Linked DNA regions of Homo sapiens: regions 1, 3 and 4 are each linked to region 2. The links come from fine-mapping of genetic effects on gene expression. A gene starts in region 2. Each other region holds a variant in brackets. All regions are shown on one strand. Distances are between the middles of the regions. Region 1 has its middle 79 kb from the start of GPAT3. Region 2 holds the start of GPAT3 (glycerol-3-phosphate acyltransferase 3). Region 3 has its middle 12 kb from the start of ABRAXAS1. Region 4 has its middle 110 kb from the start of GPAT3.

Evidence for each region.
Region 1: its variant is fine-mapped to the expression of GPAT3 in whole blood (INTERVAL, PIP above 0.99).
Region 3: its variant is fine-mapped to the expression of GPAT3 in whole blood (TOPMed, PIP above 0.99).
Region 4: its variant is fine-mapped to the expression of GPAT3 in whole blood (TOPMed, PIP above 0.99).

What each region holds. Positions count from the first base shown.
Region 1 is chr4:83,610,761-83,618,554 of GRCh38, reverse strand. No RefSeq gene overlaps it. Among named protein-coding and RNA genes, the nearest start is that of GPAT3, 79 kb to the right of the region's middle. RefSeq lists enhancers at 1-79, 1-452. The variant T/C (reference allele first, on the strand shown) is at 4,589.
Region 2 is chr4:83,532,968-83,540,761 of GRCh38, reverse strand. It overlaps GPAT3 (glycerol-3-phosphate acyltransferase 3), which reads right to left and starts at 4,654. Exons shown (of 12, transcript NM_032717.5): 1 at 3,999-4,654. The coding sequence starts at 4,139.
Region 3 is chr4:83,492,884-83,500,677 of GRCh38, reverse strand. No RefSeq gene overlaps it. Among named protein-coding and RNA genes, the nearest start is that of ABRAXAS1, 12 kb to the right of the region's middle. The variant A/G (reference allele first, on the strand shown) is at 3,505.
Region 4 is chr4:83,641,113-83,648,906 of GRCh38, reverse strand. No RefSeq gene overlaps it. Among named protein-coding and RNA genes, the nearest start is that of GPAT3, 110 kb to the right of the region's middle. The variant C/A (reference allele first, on the strand shown) is at 4,033.

The DNA of each region.
Region 1 (7,794 bases), 78 kb before region 2:
ATTCCATTGACACTATACTTTAGTTGTAAAGGAAGTATACTTTTCTGTAAACTCTTTCAGAAGAGTGCTTAGGCATTTACTATCCCAAACTTACATGAAAAATGTTCAAAGGCACTCTAAATCCCCTATGATGTTTTCGTCCAAACATGTTTCTTGATTTTGTTTTTATTTTCCACCTGCTTCAGTGGATTTCCATAGCCCAGAGTTTTTGCCTTTGTCATTGTTGTGTCCTCAGACCTAGAACAGCATACGAATTGTAAGCACCAAATATAGGTGTTTTCCTTTATAAAGCTAGAGAAACAATGATTTGAAAACTTGCCCAACTCTAACCTGTGATCCCTAATTGACTTGTGTAATCAGCAAGGATATATCTTAACTAAGCCAAGACATACAATTGTCAAAGATTCTCAAAAAAGTTTAAATTCACCTATTTGTATAAGAAATATATATATTTCACCTTGAGAGGAGACTAACTGGTTCTGCTCTTTGAGCTATCCACTCCCTGATCACAGCTTTAGAGGGCAAACGGATTTGAAATGTTTTAGGTCACCAAGATAGAGTATACATTTTTTATTCTCAGAGTTTTCCAAGACATCTTTTCCGGACACAGAGCCAAGAGGCCAGCAAGTAGCCAGAATTACTATATGCGTCTCACAACAGCAGGGAGTGCTCATAGCAGGAATTTATGACCATGGAGGGCCATCAAAAGCCTTGATGGGATCCTCAGCCTAGGCTGTAACACGTGCAGCCTGAAAACTCACCACCCACCCACAATGCCAAGAACACCAATGACCTGGTGGCTTCTTTCAGCTGACTTCCTGCTGTCGGGTTTTTGTATTCTCCACCAACACCAAAATCTTCCAGTTTTCCCTGTGTTAGTCCAGATCTCCTATAAATCACTTTATCTTACAAAACCTTTCAGCATTTAATTTGCAAATGAACAGTAATGATTCTAAAGGAGAGGCTTTTCTCCTTATATTTAAATAATGGCTTTAACCTAGAGTAAAACACTCAGAGAAACTTCTTTTTAAATTTAAAGTTGTCTCCTTCTAGAACTTTTATTTTTTGCAACAAGAACTCACTCTCTTCCTATATGATAAAAGAAAATGATTTTGAATGCTTCTGTAACTAGCAAGAAAGTTAGGACTACTCAAGTCAGAGACTAAAGGAAGATCGATTCCCAGAGGAAAAAGCAGAGCAGAGAGCCCAGCAGTTGTCATTTACTTTGCAGGCATTGGCTGAACCAGGCAAACTCTAGCATTGGTTTCTAGAGCCTTAAGGGCCTAAGGGACAAAAAACAAAATTGAAGTCCTGCCCAAGATGGAAAGTCTAACTACAGTCTTCCTTTGAAGGTGAAATATCAAAGGACTATAACCTCTGTGTAACAGTAAAGTAGAAAGGGCCAGGTGCAGTGGCTCATGCCTGCAATCCCAGCACTTTGGGAGGCCGAGGCGGGCGGATCACCTGAGGTCAAGAGTTCGAGACCAGCCGGACCACATGGAGAAACCCCATCTCTACCCAAAAAAAATACAAAATTAGCCAGGCATGGTGGCGCACACCTGTAATCACAGCTACTCTGGAGGCTGAGGCAGGAGAATCGCTTGAACCCGGGAGGCAGAGGTTCCGGTAAGCCGAGATCACGCCATTGCACTCCAGCCTGGGCAACAAGAGCGAAACTCCATCTCAAAAAAAAAAAAAAAGAAAAGAAAAAAAAAAGAAATAATCCATCCTCCAATCTCAAATGTAAGCAAGGCAAATTGCTTGTGTCAAACCTTACTGATAAGTGAAAGGGAAAAATAACTTTCCCCTAAAGATTTAAAACTACTTGGCAATTAAAAAGAATGAATTACTTATAAATACAATGTGGATTTATCTAAAAATAGTACACAGATCATTCAAAACCACAATGGCTCACCTTTGGATTTACAGACTGAATTCTCACTATTTCCATAGCCCGATAACCTCAAGCCAACAATATAGTTTAAAGTAGTACCAGATTGATAGTGCCCTAGAGCTGGGGTGGGCAACCATATCAGATGAAGAAGCAGATAGTAAACATTTTAGGCTTTGTGGGCCATGCAGGTCACTATAGCAACTACTCAACTTTGCTTTTGTCATGCAAAAGCAGCTATAGGCAATATATAAACAAATGCTGTCTTGCAATAAAATTGTATTTACAAAAACAGACAGAGGGCAGGATTTGGCCTACAAGCTTTGGTTTGCTGATCCCTGCTCTCCAGGTCTAAGAGAGGATAAAATTCCAAAGATGATAATTATTAAAATTCTCTAAACACACAAAGACTCTATGAACAAGAAGCAGCAGAAAAGATAGACCCAGACCCTCAAAAGATATAAGATTTTGGAGTTGTTGGGAAAAACATAAAATCAATAAGCATAAGGTACTTCAAAACTATGTGAGAGTAATCACATTTGAAAAAGAATTAGATATAACTCTTACAAATGAGAAATAAGGCTGGGCGCAGTGGCTCATGCCTGTAATCCTAACACTTTGGGAGGCTGAAGCAGGCAGATCACCTGAGGTCAGGAGTTCGAGACCAGTCTGGTCAATATGGTGAAACCCTGTCTCTACTGAAAATACAAAAAAAAATAGCTGGGAGTGGTGGTGCATGCCTGTAATCCCAGCTACTCAGGAGGCTGAGGCAGGAGAATCGCTTGAACCCAGGAGGCAGAGATTGCAGTGAGCCAAGATTGTGCCACTGCACTCCAGCCTGGATGACAGACGGAGACTCAGTCTCATAAAAAAAACAAAGGGAAATAAAGGACATCAACAAAATGGTTAACTAGAGTTGCCTGGCACATATCCCTCCCAACAAAAAACAACCAAAACAACAAATAACAACTAACATTCAACTGTAGTGTCTGAGGGACAGCACTGGAGTGCAGAAAGGGACTGGTGAAATCCCTGTGGAGCACAGAAGCCCAGGATGTCAGCAAAAAGAGGGGAGCAAGGCACCCTGCCCCTGCCACCCCATCTCTCCCATTGAGATTGGCTCAGATCCAGGAGGGACTTCTCCATATGGGAAAAAGGTAAGCAGAAGGCCCCCACATGCCTGAACTGCCACTGCAGATTCCTGTAGTACTTACTATAGAAGAATCCCACAGTCCTCAAAAGCCCTTAGCCCAGTTTGCGGAGCTGCTTGGAATTAACATAGCTGCGTTACTCCAGAGTAGGAACACAAGGTGTGCACTCCCCACCCCAATCAACCCCAGTGAGCCAAGCTACTGCAGGACTGTGCCATCTTGAAACTGGAACCACTGCTAGAGTCCACCCTGCTCTGGGGTCCAGCAGCCACTGCATGTCTCCAGCCTTGAGTCTCTGCCATTATTTTACCAAGTCCACACAGGTGGCTGCAATACCACAACGCTGTCTGCTTGGAGCATGGGGCCAGGAACAGCCATGACTTCAGCATTGCACAGCAGGAAAGCCAACCCTTGGCTGGCTGAACTAAATAGTCCAATGGACCTTCCCCCAGAAAGTCCCCCTTCTTGGCACTCACTACCAAAGAAACAGCCTGACAAACCTGCCCCTGAGACAAGCCACCGAACTACTGCACATCCATGTCCCAGCTGGAGAAGCAACAAGGTGAACCCACCTCCAGCAGAAACATTCCTGGTGGACCCACTCCCAGGTCCACCAAGCATCTGTATCCCTGCACCCATGGCCAGCGAAACTGCATGGAAAATTCACCCCCAGCAAGCCAGTCACCAAACCAACCAACCCACTGCACACTTATGCCTCTGGCCAGAGAAAAAGCTCAATGGTCCCATCCCCGCAAAGATGCACCACTGCCACCATAGATTCTCACAGCCTAGGCCACTGAGGTACTCACAAAGATCATTAATGTGGATTATAGCCAAAGAATCTTAACAGGTTAACAGACTACACTACTGTGTCCACCCAGAACCAAGGCCAACTCAACTTACCCATTGACACCATATGACTCACCTACAGGAATGACTCTCCCTACCAAAGGTACTCCATAAAATTGGAAGAGGCAATTGTTTCAGCAGATACACAGGTATCAACATAGAGATACAAGAAAATGAAAATGCAAGGAAACATGACACTTCCAAAAGAACATAATAATTCTCCAATACCAGCTCCCCCACCAAAAACAATTTACAAGATGCCAAAAAAGAAATTCAAAATAATGAGTTTAAGAAAACTTGGTGAGATGCAAGAGGATACATATAGACAATTCAACAAAATCAGGAAAACACTTCGTGATCTGAATAGGAAATTTAACAAAGAGATAGATAGAATAAAAGAAACAAACAGAAATCTTGGAGCTTAAGAACTCAATGAATGAAATAAGAAATACAACCGAGACCTTCAACAAAAGACCAGAGCAAGCAGAAGAATTTCTAAACTTGAAGACAGGTCTTTTGATATGACCCAGGCAGACAACAACAAAAACAAAAGAATAAAACAGAATGAAGAAAGACTACAGGATTTACAGGGCATCATAAAGCAAAATAAAAATTCACATTATGAGAATTTCAAAAGGAGAAGTGTGTAAGTCCATTTCGCGTTGCTGTAAATAAATACCTGCGGCTGGGTCTTTTA[T/C]AAAGAAAAGGGGTTTATTGCTGTACAAGAAGCATGATACCTGCATCTACTTTTGGTGACAACCTCAAGAAGCTTTTACTAATGGTGGAAGGCAAAGGGTGCCAGCATGTCACATGGTGAGAGAGGGAGCAAAAAAGCAATGGGAGGAGTGCCATGCCTTAAACAACCAGCTCTTGTATGAACTAATAGAGTAAGAACTCATCCATTACCATGGGAAGGGGACCAAGCCATCATTCATTACCATGGGAAGGGGACGAAGCCATTCATGAGGGATCACCCCCACTAACCAGACAACTTCCAATAGGCGCCACCTCCAACATTAGTGGGGATGGGTCACATTTCAACATAAAATTTGGGGAAGACAAATATCCAAACTATAGCAAGAAGAGATGGGAAAATACATAGAAAACCTATTTCATAAATTAATAGCTGAAAACTTCCAAGGTCTTGGGAGGGATAGAGACATCCAGATCCAAGGAACTCAGAGATTCCCAAATAGATTCAACCCAAAAAGGTCCTCTGCAAGGTGCATATAGTCAAACTGTCAAAAGTCAAAGACAAAGAGAATTCTAAAAACAACAAGAGAAAAATATCAAGTCACATACAAGGGAATTTCCATTAGACTAATAGCATAGTTATTGGCAGAAACCTTACAGGGCAAAGAGAATGAGGCAACATAGTTAAAGTGCATTAAGAAAAAAAAAAAACTGCCAGCCAAGAATACTATACCCAGGAAAGCTATCCTTGAAAAATGAAGTCCACAAACCCTTTCCCAGAAAAGCAAAAACTGAGAGAATTCATCAACACTAGGCTTGCCTTAAAGTAAATGCTTAAGGGAGTTCTACATCTGGCAGCAAAAGAACAATAACTAGCATCATGAAAACACATGAAAGAACATGAAAGCATAAAACTCACTGATACACCAGACATACAAAGGAGAAAGAGAAATAAATCAAATCTTATCACCACATAAAACCACTAAACTTCAAAGATAAATGATAAGAGAGAAAGAAAAGAACAGGGGCTATACAAAGCAATTAGAAAATGATTGACAAGATGACAGGAATAAAGTCCTCACCTGTCAATAATAATCTTGAACTTAAACAGATTAAATCCCCTAATCAAAAGATATACACTGGCTGAATGGATTTTTTTAAATGACCCAACCATATACTGTCTACAAGAAACTCACTTCACCTGTAAAATACACATAAATCAAAAGTGAAGGGATAGAAAAAGATATTCTACACAGAAACCAAAAGTGGGCAGGAATAGCTATAGTTATATCTGATAAAATAGGCATTAGGTAAAAAAACTATTTTAAAAAAAGGGACAAAGGGCCAGCCATGGTGGCTCATGCCTGTAATCCCAGCACTTTGGGAGGCTGAGGCAGGTGGATCATGAGGTCAGGAGATCAAGACCATCCTGGTCAACATGGTGAAACCCCGTCTCTACTAAAAATACAAAAATTAACTGGGCATGGTGGCGCGTGCCTGTAATCCCAGCTACTCAGGAAGCTGAGGCAGGAGAATCGCTTGAATCTGGGAGTCAAAGGTTGCAATCAGCCAAGCGCACCGCTGCACACCAGCCTGGCAACAGAGCGAGACTCCGTCTAAAAAAAAAAAAAGAAGGTTATTATTTACTGATAAATGGATAAATTTTGCAACAGGATATAACAATTATAAATGTATATGTACCCAACCCTAGAGTACCCAGATATATAAAGCAAATATTATTAGATCTAAAAGGAGAGATAGGCTCCAATAAAATAGTAGTTGGGGACTTCAAGACCCCACTCTCAGCGTTGAAGAGATCATCTAGGCAGAAAATCAACAAAGAAACATCCAATTTAAACATACTACAACCAAAAGACTTAACAGACATTAAGAACATTTCATTCAACAGCTGTAAAATACATATTCTTCTCATCAGCACATGGAACATTCTCTATGACTGACCATGCATTAGGCCACAAAAAAAGTCTCAACAGATTTTTAAAAACCAAAATCTCATCTAGTATCTGTTCTGACCGCAATGGAATAAAACTAAAAATCAACAACAAGAGGAACTTTAGAAGCTGTACAAATACATGGAAATGAAACAACATGCACCTGAATGACCAATGAGTGAATGATGAAATTAAGGAGAAAATTTAAAAATTTATTTAAACAAATAAAAGTGGAAACACAACACCCAAAACCTATAGGATACAGCAAAAGCAGTATTAAGAGGGAAGTTTACATCAGTAAACACATACATCAAAAAAAGTAGAAAGATTTCAAATAAATAACAATGCACCCCAAGGAACTAGAAAAGCAAGAACAAACCAAACCCAAAATTAGTAGAAGAAAATAATAATATCAGAGCAAATATAAATGAAATTAAGACCAAAAAAATGCAAAAAAAAAAGATGAAACAAAAAGCTGCTTTTTTGAAACAATAAACAAAATTTGAAAAGGAATAGCTAGACTAAGAAAAAAGAGAAAAAACCCAAATATATAAAATCAGAAGTGAAAAAAAAGACATTACAACTGATAGCACAGAAATACAAAGGATCATTAGAAACTATTATGAACAACTCTACTTCCTAATTTCTGTTAGAAAAACCTAACAGAAATGGATAAATTTCTGGACACATACCACCTACCAAGACTGAACCAAGAAGAAATGAAAAACCTGAACAGAATAATTACAAGTAACCAGACTGAACCAGTAATAAAACATCTCCCAATAAAGAAAAGACCAGGCACAAATGACTTCACTCCTGAATCCTACAAAATTATTTAAAAAGAACTAATTTCACTGCTTCTCAAACTATTCCAAAAAGTTAAAATGGAGAGAATTCTTCCAAAATCATTGTATGAGGCCAGCATTGCTCTGATAATACAACCGGACAAAGTCACAATAAAAAATAGAAAAGTATAGGCCAAAATATCTGATTAACAAAGATCCAAAAATCCTCAACAAATACTAGCAAACCAAATTCAACAGCACATAAAAAATATACACCATGATCAAGTTGGATTTATCCCAGGAATGCAAAGATGGCTCAATATATGCAAATTCATAAATGTGATACATCACATCAACAGAATGAAAAACAAAAACCATATGATTCTTGAACAAAAAGAACAAAGCTGTAGGCATCACACTACCTGACTTCAAAATATGCTACAAAACTATATTAACCAAAACAGCTTGATATT
Region 2 (7,794 bases):
GCCAAGATTGTGCCACTGCACTCCATCCAGCCTGGGTGACAGAGCGAGGCTCTGTCTCACAAAAAGAAATAAAATAAAATAAAAATAAAACAGGGACAATACCAAGGGTGGCCATAAAGGCCAAAAGAGATAATGTAGCTGCTGCCTACCACACAGTAGGCCACAAAGTAGCCTCCTCTTCCCTATATTCCATATTTTAGGCCTCTGCAATGGCCAGTTTTTTCCAGACTGTCCAGTGCTTCTCCCCATAAATAGCTATTTCTCTTTTACCATGCCAGCTTCTCTAGCCAATCAGATCCACCCAAATACAAAGACAGAATATCTCTTTCAGATGTTCTGAATCTCTTACAGGGGTATCTCAGAACATATCTGTCTCAAGGCATCACAAAAGAGGCAGCTCTGTCAGCGAAATGGTCCTAAAGTACAAAAGTGGCTTCTAACAACCCACATTCTCTGCCCCCCAAGGAAAGTTGAAAGATACTTATCAACCAAGTTCTCTTTCCACCTAATTTCCAAATCCTCTTGGAGGGAAAAAGGTAGCTGTCCAAAATTCACCAAAAAGAAATGGCTTTAAGTCTGATTTCTTTTTTTTTTTTTTTTTTTTTTAGATGGAGTCTTGCTCTGTCACCCAGGCTAGAGCGCAGTGGCGTGATCTTGGCTCACTGTAGCCTCTGCCTCCCGGGTTCAAGTGATTCTCAGCCTCAGCCTCCTGAGCAGCTGGGATTACAGGTGCACACCACCATGCTTGGCTAATTTTTGTATTTTTAGTAGAGATGGGGTTTTACCATGTTGGCTAGGCCGGTCTCAAATTCCTAATCTCAAGTGATCCACCTGCCTCGGCTTCCCAAAGTGCTGGGATTACAGGCGTGAGCCACCGCACCTGGCCAAGTTTTACTCTTCATAATTTGTATTCCTAAAACAATTTTCTCGACTATAAAGCTGTAATATTAACATACGTATCCAACAAATTATCATATATCCCTTGAAAATCACTGGCTTGGAGAATCACTAAACTTATTCCAAGCTAAGTATTCAAGGCTTATCCTCAAGTATCTTGCCATATCAGTGACTTACGCATACATCTAGAGATACCCAGCAATGCAGAAGAAAATAGAAGTAGGTGCTCAATAAATGATAATTACTTGAACCAGTGGGTTAAGAAGGAGTCAGAGAAGAGCATAAAGTTCAGTGAGTTAACAAGTAACAATTACCAAAATCAGCAATTTAGAGGGTACCCTACACACATTTCAACTTCTAGAATTTGAGTTTATTGTCATGAGAAAGTCACCCATTGACAGTAAAACTTGTCAAAGTAAACATATAATAGACAAAACTAAATGATCTTTTTAAATGGTACATAAATTATAAGCAAAGAAACTTGAGAAATATCCAATTATGATCAGAGCCCAAAGAATATTCTTGGGAATGAAATGTAAAGAAAAATACAACTAAATCAATTAAGAATTTACCAAGGAGTGATACAAGGGCTAGGCCTTGAATGCAATCTACAGAAAGGCAGGGTATTTGGCCAGCACTGAAGATGTTCTAATGCTAAACATCAGCATAATCCCTTAAGGAATTATTCCTATAGTTGAGAAAAGCAATCCACCGTATTAACCCCAGTCTAACAGAAATGTCTTTGAAACATCTAACACTGTTCTAGTTGAAGGATAGAGGATCCTGGGTTACTGTTCTCCTGCACCTAAAGCAGAAATCACTATGGGATCACAGCTCTCTTTCCTGATGAGCTCAGATGCTCCCAAACATAGGAGTTCCAGGCAGCCGCAACCAACAAATCAGAGCTGGCTCACACAATGAATCTGTATTCAAATTCCACATATATCAAGCATCTCTTTGACCTAATAACTTAGTCTCAGCAGACAGGGTGGGTTCCTGATGTGTCACCTACCTGGTTTCCAAGTTATCTGGTTTCTCCCACCAGAATTAGAAAACTGGCATTCTTGTCAGTTTGATTGACAAGGAGTTCAGCTCTGGAGTTATCCAGAAGGACAAAAATTAAAATCTCTGGCCTGTCAAACTGAAAGTCAGATCCTGGACTGGAGATCATCCTATCAGGTATAATAATTTGCCAGGCTGACAGCAACTAGCTGGCCTCCGTCCTTAGCTGACCTTGAGTTACTAAAGAAAAACAGACAGAAGTGAGCCCCTGGAAGCCAGTGGGTGTGATTTACCTTTACACCATTCTTACACAGGGTATAAATTCCAAAAGACATTGCTGTATGAGAGAGCAGTTCAATCATTTCAGAGTTCAGAGAAAGAGGGAACACCAGCTGAAGAGGATCATCTGCTATGGGAGAGGATTCTGAAGATCTCACATTAGGAAGCAGTCAAGAAATTCACAGCATAATGTGACCAAGCTCAGAATGTAAAGTCAATAAGAAGAGTTCAAAACTGAGAAATAGCTCCCAAGTAGAAACAGTAGAACTTTAAAAACATGAGCACTGAGGATGAAGAATCACATACAACTTCAAAGTCTAGGCAAAGAAATAGCCACAAACAAGAGTCTAGGGCAATACAGGAGGCTAGCAAGTACAAGACAATGTCCAGTGGGTTAGAGATGTATACCTGGGAGCCACCCAATTAGCTGAGAAAGAAGAGCAGATAAAGCCACGTCCTAAGGGCAGAGAGAAAACAGGTCACAAAAATGGGAACCAAACTTATTAGAAGGCACTGTGGAATGCCAGAATCTCAGTAATCATATTATTCTTTTAATAGCAACAAGCATTCATACAGTAGGTGCAGGCAGCCTTCTAAGGTGCTTGATACCTTTTAACTCATTTGAACAACCCTATGGAAATAGGAGTTATTGTTACTCCTATTTTATAGATACAGAAAATGAGGCACAAGAGTAGATGACCTCCCTAAGGTCACATTTTGAGAAACAGAGCTACAATTTTGGTACCAAATCTAAGCAAACCTGTATCCAGGGTCCCTAATCCTAACCACTAGGCTGCAGGGCCTCTTCTCAGTTGAGATGCCTGTTTCTGGCCAGGCGTGGGGCTCACACCTTTAATCCCAGCACTTTGGGAGGTGACGGCAGGAAGATTGCTTGAGGCCAGGAGTTCAAGACCAGCCTAGCCAAGATAGCAAGACCCTGTCTCTTATGTTAAATATACACACACACACACACACACACACACACACACACATATTATACATATAATTAAATTTTTTTTTAAAAAAAGACTCCTGCTTCTAACACTTAATTCAAAGAAACCACTGATCTCTGACTCTCAGTTTCCCTCTCTGTAAAAGGGGGTTGGCACTTGCCCTCCCTACCCTACCCAGCCTTTTGACACTTAATAAAACCCTAAGAGTAAGCTGCAGTTGTTCTCTACCAGGCCTACTTCCATCTAACATTTTTCTTTGCAGGATTTGGAAACAGGAGGGTAGGGAGACCTGAGGTCAAAGAATATATACCTTTTCAATGGCATTTCAAGTGCTGTTGGTTAGATAAAATTTCCATGACTCCACTAAAATAAAATAAGATTTCTTTCTGCCATCCAGCAATTGGTCTCTTATCTTGGGCATAAAGAAGAACATGATGCCTTTCTGAACTGGATGCCTTAGTACACAAAAGGACCTCTGAAACCTGGGGCTGTAAAAACAAGCGGGTGAAGCGGAAACTGCACTGCATAATGGATATAAGCAAATCCTCTGATACAAAAAGTTGGTCGCATTGTTGTTATTCTAATCAGTAAAATAATAACGATGCTCAGGGAGTGGAATGATTTTTTCGCCTTCGACCAGAGAAACAACAGAGTGGTCCAGTGGTTCCAGCCTAGATCCCTCCAGCTCCGCGAAAGAAGCCGAGATGCTGACTTTCGCACTGCTGCGGGCAAGGAACAGAAATGCACGCACGCATGCACACGCGCGCACACACACCCCTGACTCGCGACCACTGACCTTGAGAACTGGACCCCCGGGTTCTCAGCCCGCAGCGGTGTGGGGCTGGCTGCATCCCTCCCGGCACTCACCTCTAAAGTTTTCACTAGGATCTTCATGTAGATCTCGGAGATGCCCAGAGACACTCCGAAGACCGAAGGTAAAAGGATGAAGCCGAGAACCAGCGTCAGCCAGGTGGAAAGGATCTTCCCGGCCAGCTCTGCGCCCTCCATGACTCGGCGCACCCACTCAGGAGAGGTCCGCAGTGGAGGGCCGAGCGCCACAGCAGTCCCTGTCCCCAGGCAGTCCCGCGGGAGCTCCAGGAGCAGAGCGCCGAGCCCGGCACTCACCTCTGCGAAGGGAAGAGAGGAAGGAAAAAAACTTTCAGAATTACGGCAATATCCTTCCTTCCTCCCTGGGCTCCTCCTCGCCCCTGCCAGTTAACTCTTTCTCCGCTGGCTGCCCAGGTCTGGGCTGAAGCCACCGCGGCGTGCGGAGACCTGGGTAGCGCGAGCCAGTGGTCGGAGCTGCGGGTAAGCGGAGGCACACCGCGGCGCGGGCAGAGCGCGCGAGCGCAGCCAGGAACCCGCCCCGCCCGGTGCCTGATTTCCTCTGGGTGGCGATTGCGACAACTCAGCAGATGACTCACGGAGGCCCTCCCCGAGCCAGGTTCCCTGCGGGAGCACCGCACTTTGGCACACCGGTCGCCGGCGGAGCTGGCACCGGGCCGCGGGCTGTGCTGGAAGCTGGCTGCGCTCGGGCGCCCAGCGCCCTATTTCTGCGCGCTGCCCTCGCCCCACCTCCTCCGTCACCCAACGGGGGAGCTCCCTGGCAGTACTTAGCCCAGGAGTGCCGCAGCCTCCTGGGCGGTCTCCGTTCTTCCCCGCGCCCCGCCTCCCCCAGCACTCAGCAAAGGTCCTTTCAGGAGGAGAGTTTTCATCTGAAAAATGTCAATATTTTCTTCACCCGCAGAATGAACTGCTGACGTATCTGGGACGCTTGAGGTCTTGTTTGTGTGGGTGTAAAACGAACTCTTGGAAAGGGCTTCCAAGGACAGGAAAACGCAGAGCGCACCACGCAGCCGTGTACGCCGCTTCTGGCTTCCACACCTCCTTCCCCACATGGCCTACAGCTGTGGGGCTCAATCTTGCTTATCCCGAGAGTAGGAAGCTCTCTCCACGCGTTGCCTAGCCCACTGAGCCGCCATCTCCCTGGCACAGAAACCCTGCGGCTAAGTATCTGTCACTCCCTTTCTGGGGGAAGATTCCAACCACACCTTCCCCTACCATTCAGCCAATACTATCCGCGCTTAGGCGTAGCAGAAATGCCAGGCCGGCGCAAGCCTTCATTCACCAAGCTGACAGGTGTCTCCTGGGTGTTCAGGCTCCGCGCTTCTACCGCGCCAGCCCTTATCAGAGCAACGAAGGGCAAAACCCTGTATGTTATTTACTACATTGCTGTTCTCTTAGAGACCAGAACTATTTTTAAGAATGAGCAGAAGGGATTTTGAGAAGGGATTTTCCAGATTGCCGCTGAATTCGACCAAAATCTCTTACAGGTACTTTTCAGGTGTTGTTTCAAGCTGGAAAAAAACTGAGAGGGCCAGCAAACTGAATTGAAACAGCGCTGATAGCAAATATTGCAGAGAAAATGGTCCCTGCCCAGGGTGTGGAGGAAGTGGGGAGCCAACGAAGTGACAAGCCCCTCTGTAAAGAATGTAGATGTCTGCCTTAAGTACTTACTGCCAGGTAGCTGTCACAAGCCCCCTCCCACACTAAGAACGGAAAAAATTATAACTTGATGATTAAAACCAGGTTATGGACCGGGCGCGGTGGCTCACGCCTGTAATCCCAGCACTCTGGGAGGCGAGGCGGGCAGATCATCTGAGGTTAGGAGTTCAACACCAGCCTGGCCAACATGGCGAAACCCCCGTCTCTACTAAAAATACAAAAAAATTAGCCCCGCGTGGTGTCGCACGCCTGTAGTCCCAGCTACTCAGGAGGCTGAGGCAGGAGAATCACTTGAACCCGGGAGGAGGAGGTTGCAGTGAGCCGAGATCGTGCCACTGCACTGCAGCCTGGGAGACAGAGTGAGACTCAGTCTAAAAAAAAAAAAAAAGGGTTATGAATGAAGAAGTGTTAGGAGCTTGGTTTCTCAAAATTAAACCTCTGTAAGGTTGGCTAGTTTAGAAAAACACGGAAAACGCAACTACCGAAAGCTGCCCAAAGTCCTTGCTTTCAAACACTATATATATTGAGTGCAAAACTTCAAATATTATATTGGCATATTTAACACCATATGTTCAGGCAAAACTCTTATTTTCCTTTTATTTCCTCAAACCAAGATAACTAAGGAAGGCTAAATCCTTGTACCAAAGTTTACCCCACAAGGGAGATAATACACACAACTTTGCGTGTGCTGAGTGCACACACTCTCCAGTGATTTTTGGTGCTCATGAACAAACTCCACAAAATGGTTTTGGTTTGGTTTTGTTTTAACTGTTACGGAAGAATTATTCGTCCACAGCTGTATGGTGCAATGGTAATAAAATGGAATTTGGAGTCTTCGATTGAGAGCAGCACGAACACATATAAGTTTGAGCAAGTGCTTCTGTGCTTCACCTTTCTCATCAGGAAGATGGGTTCTTCTCAGGGTTGAAAGTGATTGTGAGCATGAAACTGCATGGTAAATGACAAAGCTCTATGCAGAGATCAGCAGGCAGCCTGGTGCAAGGGCAAAAACTCTTCATCTTTTTCTTGCCTAAAAGGCAGGAGAGCCAACACAGGCTCCCCAGGGTAACAAAGGCTCATCTTTGCAGTGATGGAGGAGGGTGAGGGAAGAGAAGAAATGTAGGGTGATCCTGACCCTGTCTCAAGTCGGGGAAAGTTGGTCCCGACTTGCCGCTCTCCTTGTCTCTCTTTCACTCTCCTCACCTCTCCTCCCTCCTCCATTCCTTGAGACTTAAACCTAGGTAGGAACCTACTTTCTCCGTCCCTGAAGTCAAGACCCCCTTTACTTACTGTATTTGTTTCCTAGGGATGCCTTCACAAATCACCACAAATTTAAGGACTTAACACAACAGAAATTGATTCTCTCAGTTCTGGAGACCAGAAGTGTGAAATCAAGGTGTCTGTCTGTAAGGTCACACTCCCTCCAAAAACTGTAGAGGAGAATCTTCCAGCTTCTGGTGGATCCCAGCATTCTTTGGTTTGTGGCAGCACACACATCTCTGCCTCAGTCTTCACATGACCTTCCTGTCTCTTCTTCCCATCTTTTCTTTTACAAAGACACATTATTCTGGATTTAGGGCCCACCCTCATCCAGGATGATCTAATCTTGAGATTCTTCCCTGAATTAAACTTAATCTGCAAAGACCCTTTTTCCAAATAAGGTCATATCCATAGTTAGGGGTGTTAGGACTTGGACATACCTTTTGGGGAAGGTGCAATTCAACCCGTTATAATTACCATCTCTGTAAAATGAGGATAATAACACCTACCTGCAGAGGTTGTTATTGGGATTGGAGAGTATGTATTAAATGGTAGTTGATAGTCAATGCTTAGTAATGAATTTATCCATAATCCTGTTTTTTTACCTATTAATCCAGGCATGTATATATATACATGCCTCCCCAAAAGATATGTCCAAGTCCTAACACCCGTAACTATGAATATATATACACACCTGTATATATATACACTTACACACCTGTGTGTATATGTACACATATATATACATACATATGTGTATATATGTGTATATATATGCATATATATACACATATGTATATATATGTGTGTATATATATATACACACAAACAGCTGATCTCTACATATATATGTATGTACAGGTGTGTATGTATATATATATACAGGAGTGTGTGTATA
Region 3 (7,794 bases), 40 kb after region 2:
GTCCACACCTTTTGCACTAAGGTGTTAATTGAATACAGACACCAGGGCGAAGCAACTTCCCAGGCATGCGCATTAAGAGACAAAATGGTGGAGTATGACCCTCCAAGAAAACACCACCAAAAAAGGGGAGAAAGCTTCAGATGGGCATGTGTACAACTTCCTAAACACGTGCACCCAAAGATAAGGAGGGCGCTGTGTGTGTAGGCAGCCCATCCTAAGGGAAGAGTCATGGGAAAGCCAGCCTATAAAGTTCCAGGGTCAAGGTTAAACACCACACTTGATCTCAGTGCCTGCTTGGGTCTCTTACAAGCCTACTCTCCTTTTCTTTCTTTCCTGTTCTAAAGCCTTTTAAATAAACTTCCACTCCTGCTCTGAAATTTGTTTCGGTCTCCTTTTCTGCCTTATACCTCTCAGTTGAATTCTTTCTTCTGAGGAGGTAAGAATTGAAGTTGCTGCAGACCCATACAGATTTGCCACCAGTAACTCAGATACCTTCCACCAGTAACATAATGGCCTCCAGCTCCATCCGTATTCTTGCAAAGGACATGCTCTCATCAATGGAAGACTAGATAAAGAAAATGTGGTACATATACTCCATGGAATACTATGCAGCCCTTGTAGTTTTGCATTACTCTTAGCTTTCCGTATCTGTAAAGCATTCAGTAAAGCTACATCAATTGTCAGGCCATGAGCCATCCAGCTTCTTTCTCTTTGGAGACCAGATGTCCCAAATTATCATCACAGTCTCATGGATTAAGAACAGCAGATAGCTGGGCACAGTGGCCCATGCCTGTAAACCCAGAACTTTGGGAGGCCAAGGTGGGAGGATCACTTGAAGCCAGGAGTTCCAGACCAGCCTGGGCAACACACCAAGACCCCATGTCTACAAAAAAAAATTTTTTTAATTAGCTGACTAGTGGTGGATGTCTATAGTCTAGCCACTCAGGAGACTGAAAAATACATAAATGGCCAGGTACGGTGGCTCATGCCTGTAACCCTAGCACTTTGGGAGGCTGAGGCGGGTGGATCGTCTGAGCTCAGGAGTTCTCGACCAGCCTGGGCAACACAGTGAAACCCCGTCTCTGCTGAAAAATACAAAAAATTAGCCGGGCGTGGCAGCATGTGCCTGTAATCCCGGCTACTGGGGAGGCGGAGACAGAAGAATCACTTGAACCCGGGAGGCAGGGGTTGCAGTGAGCCGAGATCGCACCATTGCACTCCAGCCTGGGTGGCAGAGCGCGTCTCCATCTCAAAAACAAACAAACCAACAAAAAAAAACCATAAACATTTAGTCTGGGTGCAGTGGCTCACGCCTGTAATCCCAGCACTTTGAGAGGCCAAGCCTGGCAGATTACTTGACATCAGGAGTTAAGACCAGCCTGGCCAACATGGCAAAACCCTGACTCGCCTAAAAATACAAAAATGAGCTGGGCATGGGGGTGCATGCCTTTAATGCTGGCTACTCGGGAGGCTGAGGCACGATAATTGCTTGGACCTGGGAGGTATAGGTTGCAGTGAGCTGAGATTGTGCCAGTGCATTTCAGCCTGGGTGACAGAGCAAGACTGTCTCAAAAAAATAAAAATAAACATTTACACAAGATATTTTAGTTTTCTCTTGCTTCATAAAAAAAAAATCACTCTAAAATTTAGTAGCTTAAAATAACAATGATCTATTATTTCTCTTGATTCTGTAGGTTGACTGAATTTAGCTGGGTGGTTCTTCCACTCCACTTGTTGTATTTGAAGTCACTCATGAGGCTATGTTCAGCCCGAAGCACACCTGGGGCCAAACCATTCCAGAGAAGCTCATCTTCTAGAGTGTCTCTCCACATGGCTCTCATCATTCAGTGGTCTGGCCTGAGCTTTTGTACAGCACAGTGGCTGACTTCAAAGATGTTGAAGGTGGAAGCTTCCAGAACACTTAAAGCCTAAGTGTGGAAGTGGCAGAGTCACACAGGATGCATTGTATTGATTAAAGGAAGTCACCAGGCCACCTCAGTTAAAAGGAAGGGAAAATAGACTACTTGATGGGAGAAGCAGCATGAGTGCATAGGGTAGGAGAAATTGTTGATGGCCATGTTTGCAGACAAACTACCACACACAGTAATATATAAGATCATTATATGTATTTCCTCTCTGTCTCTTTAAACAGCTATCAAAGAATTTGTCCTTATTTTATTGTTTTTTAACTTTTCAGCATGAACCCACAGGACATAGAGAGTCCATTTTCCTTCTTTTTTTCCTTCTTTCTCTCTCTCTCTTTTTCTTTCTTCCCTTTTTCTTTCTTTCTTTCCTTTTTCTTTCTTTCCCTCTCTTCTTTCTTTCTCTCTCTCCTCTCCTCTTTTCTTTTCCTTCTTTTTCTCCAAGAGACAAGTTTTTGCTCCATTGCCCAGGCTGTAGTACAGTGGTACAGTCATAGCTCACTGTAGCCTCTTAACTCCTATGCTCAAGCAATCTTCCTGCTCCGGCCTCCTGAAGTGGTAGGATTAGGGTGTAAGCCACTGCACCTAGCCTAATTGTCACATCTAAATGCAGTAACTTTTCCACAACTTTGTGAAGGTAGCAATTTATTTTGAAATAAAATTTACATAGCCCAGATCCTCTCTCAGTTGTGTTTGCAGCTGCTCAGCCATCTCTTTCTGGTATCAATGCCACCTCTAGCTTGCTGAGCTCCAGGCAAAAGGCAGGGGGCTGGTAAGGAACAAGTTTTCTATACCACAGCTCTTTCTAAGCTGATTGCCTGCAAATCAAGCAGGGAGTGAAGAAATCTTATCACTACAGGCCTGGCACTCTGGCATTCCTTGAAACCAGACATTGTTAGAAGTTCACTAAACTTTTATTTTTCAAATGTCTCATCCAGCATCTGGTGTGAGAAATTGTGTAGGACTTTAACACTGATCTTGGAGTTTCCAGAGTATAGCTTTTGGTGCTTGAAGGAGGCACGTGAAGCCTATCTGACTGCCCTATTTGAAGTTACTAACTAGTATGTGATCCTAGTATAATAATTATGAAAAAAGACATCCAGCCATTCCCTAGTATATATACAAAAAGAGCTTAAAATCCACTGTGATCAGGTGCATCTCATTCTCAAACAAAACAAAACATGTTTGTCTTCCCTGTTATTATTTATTCTGACCATTAGATATTTGGTGGGGGCAGGGAGAGAAGTTAAAAGGTATCTAAATATATTATTGTTACATTAGACTGGGTGGCTTAAAAAACAGAAATGTACTTTCTCACAGTTCTGGAAGCTCTAAGTTCAAAATCAATATGTCACCAGGCTTGGTTCTACGAATAAGACCTCAAAAGCACAGACAACAGAAGCAAAAATAAACAAATGGGATTATATCAAACTAAAAATCTTCTGCACGGCAGAGGAAACAATCAAGAGAGTGAAAAGACAACCTACAGGATCAGAGAAAATATTTTCAGACTACTCATCCCACAGGGGATTAATATCCAGAAGATACAAAGAGTTCAAACATCTCAATAGCAAAAAACAAA[A/G]CAAGAAAACGTCTGATTATAAAGTAGGCAAATGATCTTAACAGAAAGTTAAATACCGCATATTCTCACTCACATGTGGAAGCTAAAAAAAGTTGATCTAATAGAAGTAAAATGTGGAACCAGAGGATATTAGAGACTGGGAAGGGGAGGATAGGTAGAGATTTGCTAAAGAATACAAAATTACAGCTAGATAGGAGGATAAGTTCTAGTGCTCTGCAGCATTGCAGGTTGCTTATAATTAACAATAATGCGTTGTATAGTTTCAAATAGCTAGAAGAGAGGATATTGAATGTTGCTCTGTGTGTGTGTGTTTGTGTGGGTGTGTGTGTGTGTTTTAAGATGGAGTTTTGCTCTGTCACTTAGGCTGGAGGGCAGTGGTGCAATCTTGGCTTACTGCAACCTCCACATCCCCGGTTCAAGCAATTTTAGTGCCTCAGCCTCCCAAGTAGCTGGGATTACAGGTGTGCACCACCATGCCCAGCTAATTTTTGTATTTTCAGTAGAGATGGGGTTTCACCATGTTGTCCAGGCTGGTCTCAAACTCCTGACCTCAGGTGATCCCCCAGCCTCCGCCTCCCAAAGTACTGGGATTACAGGCGTGAGCCACTACGCCTGGCAGGATATTTGCTAGAGCAGGAGCACCGTCATCTCGGACAAACACCACCACTTTAAGTTCCAGCTCCCTTTCTAGCCTCATGCATTTCAAGGAAATCACTTCTCTTCTAACTACAAGCAGCCAGAAAGAGCAGACAGTAAAACACAGATAAGACCGCTTGGAAACAGAGGGAGGTGAGGAGAAAGTCTCTTGGGTAACTGCCAAACTTCACCCTCATACAATGGGCCCCAGTAAGACAGTGGGCCTTAATAAGCACTTTTCTTTCCCTTCAGGAATACTAAGATAGAGAAGCTAAAAGCAGACTTGGGGGATATGCCTGCAGCTGCAAAAAGGTGTATGGGAATAGAAACGCAACTGTCCCTCCCAGATAAGCACAACAAAGAGACACAGAAGCAGTCCAAGCCTCTTATAAACTCTCCTATCCTGAATCTTTAGAAACTCTTAGTCTGTTAGAGAGTGTGGCTCTGACCTAACTCAGCCAACCGCCCTTCTCAGGTTTATTTAAAATAAACCTGCCCCTGTTGACTGAAAAGCCATCCTTTGTGTTTCTCTCCTCTTTCTTTAATTCTTACAATATTAAATGTTGTCAACACAAAGAAATGATAAATCTTTGAAATTACCAATATGCTAATTACCCTGATCTGATCACTATGCATTGTTTGTATTAAAACATTATGTAGGGCCGAGCGCCGTGGCTCACTCCTGTAATCCCAGCACTTTTAGAGGTTAGGCGGGCAGATCACGAGGTCAGGAGATTGAGACCATCCTGGCCAACACAGTGAAATACCGTCTCTACTAAAAATACGAAAAATTAGCCGGGCGCGATGGCGGGCCCCTGTAGTCCCAGCTACTCGGAAGTCTGAGGCAGGAGAATGGCGTGAACCCGGGAGGTGGAGCTTGCAGTGAGCCAAGATTGCATCACTGCACTCCGGCCTGGGCAAAAGAGCGAGACTCCGTCCCCCCCAAAAAAAAAAAACATTACGTAGCCCATGAATGTATACAATTATTATTTTTTAAAAAACGAAAAAAACATGTAATATTGACAGCAACTAATTAGATGAGTTTTGTAGCATTTTTAGCTTCTATCCATTCAGTATTCTTTTTTTTAGACAGAGTCTGGCTCTGTCACCCAGTCTGGAGTGCAGTGGAGCGATCTTGGCTCACAGCAACCTCTGCCTCCTGGGTTCAAGCAATTCTCCCGCCTCAGCCTCCCTAGTAGCTGGGATTACAGGAGTGTGCCACCATACCAGGCTAATTTTCGTATTTTTAATAGAGATGGGGTTTCACTGTGTTGACCAGGCTGGTCTCGAACTCCTGACCTCAACTGATCTTCCCACCTCGGCCTCCCAAAGTGCTGGGATTACAGGCGTGAGCCACCACATCCAGCCCATTCAGTATCTTTTTATAATTAAATTTAATTTTTTTAAGTATGTTTTTTATATATATGTTTATACATATTATATATGTGTTTATATATTTTATATATGTTTATATATAAAACATAAATATATATTTATATATAAAAATATAAAAACTATATATAAAATATATATAAACATATAATGTATAAACATGTTTATATATTTTTTAAATATTTATATATAATTTATATATATTTATATATAAATATACTTATAAAAATTATATATAATTTATACATATTTATATATAAATATACTTATAAAAATTATATATAATTTTTAAAAATATATATATAAATATATTTATAAAAATTATATATAATTTTTAAAAATATTTATATATAAACATATATATCAACATATATAAAAAATATATATAAACATGTTTATATATATATATACATGTTTATATATATATATATATATATATATATATATATATATATATATTTTTTTTTTTTTTAGACAGAGTCTCACTCCGTTGCCCAGGCTGGAATGCAGTGGTGCAATCTCAGCTCACTGCAACCTCTGCCTCCCAGGCTTAAGCGATTCTCGTGCCTCAGCCTCTGGAGTAGCTGGGATTACAGGCGCCTGACACCATGCCTGGCTAATTTTTGTATTTTTAATAGAGATGGGGTTTCACCATGTTAGTGAGGCTGGTCTCCAACTCCTGGCCTCGGCCTCCCAAAGTGCTAGGATTACAGGCCTGGGCCACCGGCCATTTCCACAATGTTGTTTTTTTTTTTTTTTTTTGAGATTGAGTCTTGCTCTGTCGCCCAGGCTGGAGTGCAGTGGCGTGATCTCAGCTCGCTGCGACCTCCACCTCCTGGGTTCAAGCAATTCTCTTGCCTCAGCCTCCTGAGTAGCTGGGACTACAGGTGCATGCCACCACACCCAGGTAATTTTTTGTATTTTTAGTAGAGACAGGGTTTCACCATGTTAGCCAGGATGGTCTCAGTCTCCTGACCTTGTGATCCGCCCACCTCGGCCTCCCAAAGTGCTGGGATTACAGGCGTGAGCCACCACGCATGGCCTTTTTTTTCTTTCTTTCTTTCTTTCTTTCTTTCTTTCTTTCTTTCTTTCTTTCTTTTCTTTTTTTTTTCTTTTTTTTTTTGAGACACAGTCTTGCTCTGTCTCCCAGGCTAGAGGGCAGTGGCACGATCTCGGCTCACTGCAACCTCTGCTTCCTGGGTTCAAGTGACTCTCCTGCCTCAGCCTCCCAAGTAGCTGGGATTACAGATGCCTGCCACCACTCTCGGCTAATTTTTTGTATTTTTAGTAGAGACAGGGTTTTGCCACATTGGCCAGGCTAGTATCAAACTCCTGACCTCAGGTGATCCACTCGCCTTGGCCTCCCAAAGGGCTGAGATTACAGGTGTGAGCCACCGCACCTGGCTGTTTCCACTCTTTTAAGATAAATTCTGGGCCCGGCGTGTTGGCTTACACCTGTAATCCCAACATTTTGGGAGGCTAAGGTGGGACGATTGCTGGAGCCCAGGAGTTGGAGATCAGCCTGGGAAACATGGCGAAATCCTATTGCTACAAAAATTAGCCTGGTGTGGTGTTGCATGCTTGTAGTCCCAACTGCTCAGGAGGCTGAAGGGGCAGAAACACCTGAACCCAGGGAGGTTGAGGCTGCAGCGAACCATGATCGTGCCACTGCACCACAGCCTGGACAACAAAGTGAAACCTTGTTTCAAAACCAAAAAGACAAATTCTAAAATCCTATGCTACAACAGCCAGCATGGTCTGGCCCTTCTCACTAGCCAGCTTTTACCTCCTGCCTCCCTCCCTCTCACACTCCAGGTTTTAGAATCTTCTAATTGCCTCAGGGTGTTCACACATGGTGTTCCTTTAACTGAGAACACTCCTCCCCACTTCTTTTCCTTTTCCCAAGTATCCAGGTCCTTGAGAAGACTTTCTCTGATCCCAGCAATAGGGGAGTGGGTATCTCAGTTACCCTTGCTTCTAGTTTTCTATTTTTCCTACTACGTATTTATTAGAATCGTAATTATGTCATCATATGAGAGATGATGTATGTAATTTTCCTTTCCCCCACTGGATTATAAATACTATTAGGGCAGGCACTATCTCTATTTTGTTATTCAATGTACCTCCAGCAACTAGCACAGTGCCTGATGTAAAGCAGGCAGTCAATAGCTGTGAATTCATGACCATAAGGAAAGTGGAAAGCAAGATTTTTGCCCTTTAAGAGATGAGAATTTTCCTAGGGAAAGAAAAAAAAATCCAGGA
Region 4 (7,794 bases), 110 kb before region 2:
CTGCCTCCCGGGTTCAAGCAATTCTCCTGCCTCAGTGATCCCAAGTAGCTGGGATCACAGATGCGTGCCACCGCGCCCGGCTAATTTTTTGTATTTTTAGTAGAGAAGGGATTTCACCATGTTGGCAGGCTGGTCTTGAACTCCTGACCTCAAGTGATCTGCCCATCTCGGCCTCCCAAAGTTCTGGGATTACAGGCGTGAGACACCGCGCCCAGCCCCGAAACATATTTATTGACATATTTTGAAATACCCCTGCAAAGCCATCTTTTGTAGGAGAAGTTTGCATCTGTAGAGAATCTCCATCAATGCAGCCAGACCTTCCTTTTCCAGGCCTTCTAGGCTCAGCTGACTTCAAGTCTTTAGACAAAGCTGAAGTTTTTCAACCACGTGTCAATCGGAAAAGTCTTTGAATCCACCTGTGGCCTGTAAGCACCACCCCCTATTCAAGATTTCCCACCTTTTTGGGCCAAACCAATACGTACCTCCCATGTATTGATTTTATGTCTTTGCCCGTAACTCCTGGTCTCCCTAAAATGTATAAAACCAAACTGTAACTCAACCACCTCAGGCACACTTTCTCAGGACCTCTTGATACAGTTCCCCAGGCCACGGTCACTCATATTGGCTCAGAATATACCTCTTTAAGTGTTTTACAGAGTCTTTCATGAACAGGAATATTCATTCCCATTCTATCTCTGATTGTTAATACTTGACCACATTTTGTTTCCCCAACTCTTCGGCTGTTTTGACAGTGGTAGAAAGATCACCTGTCAAGCATTGCTTACAGTATCCAAATACAGGAAGTGGCATTCCCTTTTCATCAGTGAAGCATCTGGGTGTCTCTACCCAGATCCAGAGCCATAGGAGCAGCTCCAAACCTTCTGGGTCCCCCAGGAGAGAGTCCACAGTCACTCATCCAGTGCTCAGAGCCTGCCAGAGTAGAGGTATCAGCTGGGTCATCCATCACCAGGATAGGAGGTGCAACAGGCGTCAGCTTGTTTCTACACGGGCTATTACAACATCTCTAGGCCCCATATCCATTGCAGATTGCCCCTAATTTGAGAACTCAAGGTAAATCTTAAATCTTTGCTTGAGCTGAAAACCAAAATTCAAGCTAAAATTAACAGTAAAACCTGCAGTAATTCTGAATAATGATGGTCTCTGTAACAATACAGCACCAGAAATTAAATACTAAAAACCTATTTGAAACAACAGCTCTGTGGCCCACTTTGATGGACACAAAATAACGCTTTTGTTGTTTGTATGAAGTAACATTAAAGAGGAAAAGGGGAATACAAAATGGCATTGTTAGGACAATGTAATCGATTGGTTATCATGATGCAGAATATTTATATGTACATTAGTAAAGATAGAAGATTATTTTGAGTAATAAAGTGGTTTAATAATTATTTTTGGTAAATCTGTTTACATTTGGAAAGAAATTTGAATGGAAGAGAGAGATGTGCAGAAAGAGTTAATATAACTTTAAATGGAACTGGTTTTAAACAAGTGACTCTGTGCTGCTGTCCCACAAAATGCTCCCTTAGAAACCTCTGGCATCCCTCAGGGTCAAACGTGCATAACTTAGTGACCATTTCATCCTCTGAATCCGTAGGTGCCACCCTAGTCACACATTACACTATCACCTTTAACTTTGTCATTCTTCACTCTGCCTAGACCAGAGCAGACTTTTAGAGAATCAAAAGTACAGCCCCACTGGAAATGAGTAAAACCCTACCCCCCAAATAAATGTTTGGTCAGATGGTGTTATCCATCAGAGCTGAAGGGACATGAGGCTAGTGAAGAGAAGATTCTGGGCTTTATGTTAATGCTGACCTTCTCTGGAGCAACGTGGTCTCTTTAGCTTCCACACATGTCTAATCACTAGGGAGTTGTCTAGCTACACGAATTTTTCACATTTGTCAGCTAAATCAGCGCTCCAAATGCACAATGCAGCACTTAGAAACATTATGTGAATTTATTAAATTCTCTGGAGGACTTTGGGTCCATAAAGCAGTAAATTGATTACAGAGAACTGAGGCCATAATATTTTCATCAGCAGCAAAAGCTGCTGTGCTCCCATATTGTGCATGGCATATGAAGAGAAGCTGTTCCTCACTTCACTTGAGCTGGCAGGCTGAGAATCACACAGGAAACAAGGGGAAGGCTCTGGAATGCATCAAAATGATGCGTCATTTAATCAGTTTCTTTCAGAACGCCAGCTTTCAGGTACGCCTCTTATAAGAAAACTAAGGAAAAATATAAATAGCCTCTTCCTGCTTTGGATTTGCCTATGAATGCTTTCAGAATTAGCCCTCATGATCATAGCTGTTCATTGACTTTACCATGAAAGAGCGTATTGACATTATTATCAAAATAAGGGGCATTAGTAGCAGGTCAGGAGGAAACGATGGGTCTGTGTTGATGACATGGCTTGGATACTAAACATGCTTACATGTGGTTTGATGATCACATAACTGATGACCAATATCCCCTCCAAAGAAGGAAGGGAGAATCCTAACACTTTCTAGGATGCCCACCATGCCAGGAATTATTATAGGTGCTTTTCCATAGATTATCCTATTTCAAACTTTGCAACAATCTTAAGAGCTAGGAATGATAATTCCTGTTTTTAAGGGAGAAAGCCAAGGCTTAGTAAATTGCCCAAAATCACACGGCTGAAAAATTAGGTTGGAATCCAGACCAGGACTGTGTGTTTCCAAAGACACCCTTGTTCTTTGACCCCATTTCAAAATCTTTGATGTTCGTGTCTTCTAAAAGATTTCACTCCCCAGAAAGTAATTGGATAGCTTTCTGCTGCTGCATGGGAAAACTTTTGTCGTCTCAAATGTTTCTGGAGGGAGAGGAAGGGGTAAATCTCGGGGCAGTCGTGTTAGTGTCCTGGCACTAGAGCTGTCATTTTAGAACCTGCGAGAAGACTAGAATATTCTAGGCTAGTCCTAGAATATTATTTTGGCCATTTCACTGTGTCTTTGAGCCTTCTTCGGGCATCCTGGAAAAGGGAGTGATTATGACATTTAGGTATGATGAATGATAATCCTTTTTAAATCTATTAACTGGATTTTGATAAACATCTAAAATGACCGTAGTTCTTCCCTCTGCATTGAAAGGAGTGATGCAAGAGGAATAACCAGTGTGTTGGCAATTCTTACTTCTTGGTTGCCTCCAGACTAAACAAGGTCTTCGTATAGAGGAGCAGAGACCTTGCTACAGGAAGACCATGGAGGCAGGGAACAACCACTCCTCTCCTTGCACCACAGCTCTTGGACTGAGTTCTTTGGCTGTGATGGAAAAGAAGCAGTGTCTCTATAAGGCCTAAAAACCCCTGGCTAAAGGCTAATCTCAAAGGGAGGGCTCTGTCTTACTAAAATTTGTGGATTCCCAGTGCTTGGCAGACTGCCTGGTACACAGTAGACCCCCAGTAAGTGTTTATTAGATTCAATTGAAATATTAAGACAGCTCAGCAGTTTGTCAAGTTATAAATGCAGGAGTATGAGAATTACTTTGTGAGCTGTTTTTAAATATAGTAATTTGTGAGCATAATTGTATTTCATATGTGGTAATTCACAAAGTTAAGCCCAGCACTTCCCAGTTCATCTTAAAGCTATCTATTCAAGCAACTCTTGACTCTATAACAAAAACTATCCACTATCCATTATATCTGAATTTTTCTCAGCATATGTGCCCATCCAGAATAGTATTTCAAAACTGGAATTATCCAGGCCACACTGGAGCATATAATCAACTTGGAATTAGCCATTTTTTTCTTTTTTATTATTTCTTCCCCATATTGGCTGCAGTTGTATGAATTACAGATTTTATCTCCCTCAGACTTTTTTGCTTATGGAGTGGGGTGACTGATTTTGGTGCTTTCTCTTTTATTGCCTGTCTGACGTTAAAAATCCTATCAACCGTTCGGAAACTAATCTAATTCATTTCGAGAATAATGTTGTGAACTCTATTTACAGAATCCAAAGCCATAAAGCTTCTAATGCTACGTGAAACAGCACC[C/A]CCTACTGGCAATGTTGTCACATTACATCATCATATCCTCAGCACTGAAATCCATCTCTCTCCTGTTGAGAAACTTTGACAAGTAACTTCACAAACAGAACCTATTTAAAATACTTCAAATAGAACAAATCTCTTACTCTGTTTTACCTTCATGGAAACTATTCCTTGATAACAATTTTTGCTAAGAAAGGAAAATATGTGATCTCCCTTTTTCTAGGACCATAAAGTTGTAAAAGGCAAGTTTATTTCAAACTTAACATCAGGTGGGTCCAAACCATGCACTTCATGTCTCTGTGTTTCAGCAGTACAATTCTTTGTATAGCAAATGTACTTTCTTACAAAACACCAAAACTAGCTTTAAAAATAATTGCATATGATTTTTTCACTGTGACCATTTATTCATTCCCGACCACAGCATTCATTCAACAAGTAATTTTTTTTTTTTTTTGAGATGGAGTCTCACTCTGTTGCCCAGGCTGGAGTGCAGTGGTGTGATCTCAGCTCACTGCAACCTCTGCCTCCTGGCTTCAAGCGATTATCTTGCCTCAGCCTCCCAAGTAGATGGGATTACAGACACGTGCCACCACGCCCGACTAAAATATATATATATATATTTTGTATTTTTTGTGGAGACAGGGTTTCACCATGTTGGCCAGGCTGATCTTGAACTCCTGACCTCAAGTGATTTGCCTGCCTCTGCCTCCCAAATTGCTGGGGTTAGAGGCGTGAGCCTCTGCACCCGGCTACATTTAACAAATATTTACTGATCATCTAGGCTTGAGAATACCACAGTGAATAGCATGCATCTGGTCCCTGCCCACATAGAGCTTACAGCTGAGGTGACAGAATAAACCCATCCAATGCTGGATTTGACTAAGGAAACATCTGTGGAATCACAGAGCAAGGGTACTAGCATAGCCAACGGGAATTCAGAGAACCTTATCGCTGGCACTGTGAGTGCCCCAACCATTCCCCAGGACACACTGAAAGTTACTTGGCGCTTCAGTAGATTGTTCTCATCTTATTCTTGGTTTCCCGCATCAAACACCTGCATTTCTCTGGCCGAGGACTTCTGCTAGCGACAAAATGGGCAAGCTAAAAGTACCAGGGAATTAAGCAACCCTCAGCCAGTGAGGGACAGGAGTTGGTGGATAGACACCCTAGCTCCCTTGCCCTTCAATAGATAATTCTGAAGTGTATTCCACTCAGGCTCTTAGAAAGTCCCTGGCCAGGCACAGTGGCTCACACCTGTAATCCCAGCACTTTGGGAGGCCGAGGCGGGCGGATCATGAGGTCAGGAGTTTGAGACCAGTCTGGCCAACACAGTGAACCCTGTCTCTACTAAAAATACAAAAATTAGCAGGGTGTGGTGGTGTGTGCCTGTAATCCCAGCTACTCAAGAGGATGAGACAGGAGAATCACGTGAACCAGGAGGCAGAGGTTGCAGTGAGCTGAGATTGCGCCACTGCACTCCAGCCCAGGTGACAGTGCGAGATTCAGGACAGAAAGGAAGAAGAAAAGAAAAGAAAAGAAAAGAAAAGAGAGAGAAGGAAGGAAGGAAGGAAGGAAGGAAGGAAGGAAGGAAGGAAGGAAGGAAAGGGAAGGAAAGGAAGGAAAGGAAGGAAAGGAAAGGAAGGAAGTCCCCAGTAGAATGTGCACAATTCATTGTTAACAGGACTGCTGGGATTTCAACAGGCTTGGTAAATGACATTCATCTTTCTCACAAATGTTGTGAGGCAATTAAGAAATCCGACCAAAGAATAAGGCAGCTAGGAGAATAGATATCACATTGTTAATATTGAAAAATGAGGCTACGTCTCTAGGCAAGTAGATCACATTGCACTCAAGAATTAAACTGCTGGTCTTTTTAAATTTTTATTTATTTTTTTGAGACCTGGTTATAAGACTGGCTAATTTTTGTATTTTTCGTAGAGATGGAGTTTCACCATGTTGCCGAGGCTGGTCTCAAAATCCTGAGCTCAAGCAATCCATCTCCCTCAGCTTCCCAAAGTGCTTAGATTACAGGCGTGGGCCACCGCACCCAGCCACTGCTTATCTTTTGAATCCCAAGCACCACTGGACTGGGCAAGCCTCTGAAAAACAGGGCCTGCCTGGTGCATTTATGACAAGGATGATCAGAGTGGAATGCAAGCTTCCAGAAGACAGGCTCCTCCCAAGAGAAAAAGGGAAGAGGCTGAGCCATTTGGTCAGTTATTCCTTCCACATTCACCAGTCAGATAAGTGACGTATCTTCCAGAAAGGAGCAAGGAAGGGGCATAAAAACACCAAGGAAGGGACCTAGAGAAGACACTATGTCTGAGCCTAAGAGGAACACACATCATCCAGAAATCCTAGACTAGTGGAGCTCCCTCCACAAGAATAAAACCTCAACAGTGGGAAAAAGGGTCCCCACCACCACACACTCCATCCCATGTCAAAACTTTAAGAGAGTTTTGCTAGTCCAGTGATTCCCTCATACCACCATTCAACATAGTAAATAAAAACAACATCTTTTGTAATTTCCATACTGTCAACACTCTTTCTGAGTGACACTGGTCCCCAATTAAGACAGCAGTAATCAATTATATGAACAAACAATAATCAATTATATGAACAATAATCAAGTCTCTATAGCATTAATAAATGGATTTTAGCCATGTAGTGCCTACTTTTAAAAGGCACTTAAGAAAGGCTTCACTTTTTTCTAATTATTCTTTCAACATGTATATAGCCCTTACTATATGCTAATACGGTGACATATTTATTTAACACTCACAATGACCTTACAAGTTGAGTACTAGTACAAGTTGAGTACCACTACTTAAATGAGAAAACTAAGAAAGCTAAGACTCTTGCTGAAGGTCACAGAGCTAATAAGAGTGAAGCCAGGAGTAAACATTGGTGACTTTTCTTTTTTTTTTTGAGACAGAGTTTCGCTCTTATTGCCCAGGCTAAAGTGCAATGGCGCAATCTCGACTTACCACAACCTCCGCCTCCCAGGTTCAAGCGATTCTCCTGCCTCAGCCTCCCGAGTAGCTGAGATTACAGGCGCACCACCACCATGCCCAGCTAATTTTGTATTTTCAGTAGAGACGAGGTTTCTCCATGTTGGTCAGGCTGGTCTCAAACTCCCGACCTCAGGTGATCTGCTCGCCTCAGCCTCCCAAAGTGCTGGGATTACAGGTGTGAACCGCTGTGCCCGGCCCACCTTGGTGACACTTATGTCAAAACTCATGCTCTGAAGTACTGTCCAATCCTTCCCTCTAATCATTAAGCTAGATGTTTGTCTTAGGAGGTCATTCAATGTGTTTTAAATTAGAAATGCCAGTAGGACAACCAGTTAGTGAATAAAGCAAATGGACTCAAATATTCTGCTTCATGAGTAATTGGCCCTCAAATGCACAAACCAAAATTTGCTAGAACAAAAGTCCACATAAACTAGGAAAAGGAAGAAAACGGTTCCATCATTTTTGACAAACTGTTGCCAAGTATCTTCCAACTTAAAATTGGTCCTAATAATAACTCTAACTCTTTGAGGTTCTATTTATCCCTGTTCTCTGTATCAGTGAGATTCTCTTATTTCTATGGTTTCAATTTTCATAAATACCACCTGTAAAATACATACAATTCTGTAAAAATGGTACAAATAGAACATACATGCAATTAATACTGCAATTACAGCCCCTTACTGCTTAGTTATTTGCTCATGTCTTTAAGTTCAGAGAAATGAGGGATGTACTCCTAGCACCTAAAATGATACCT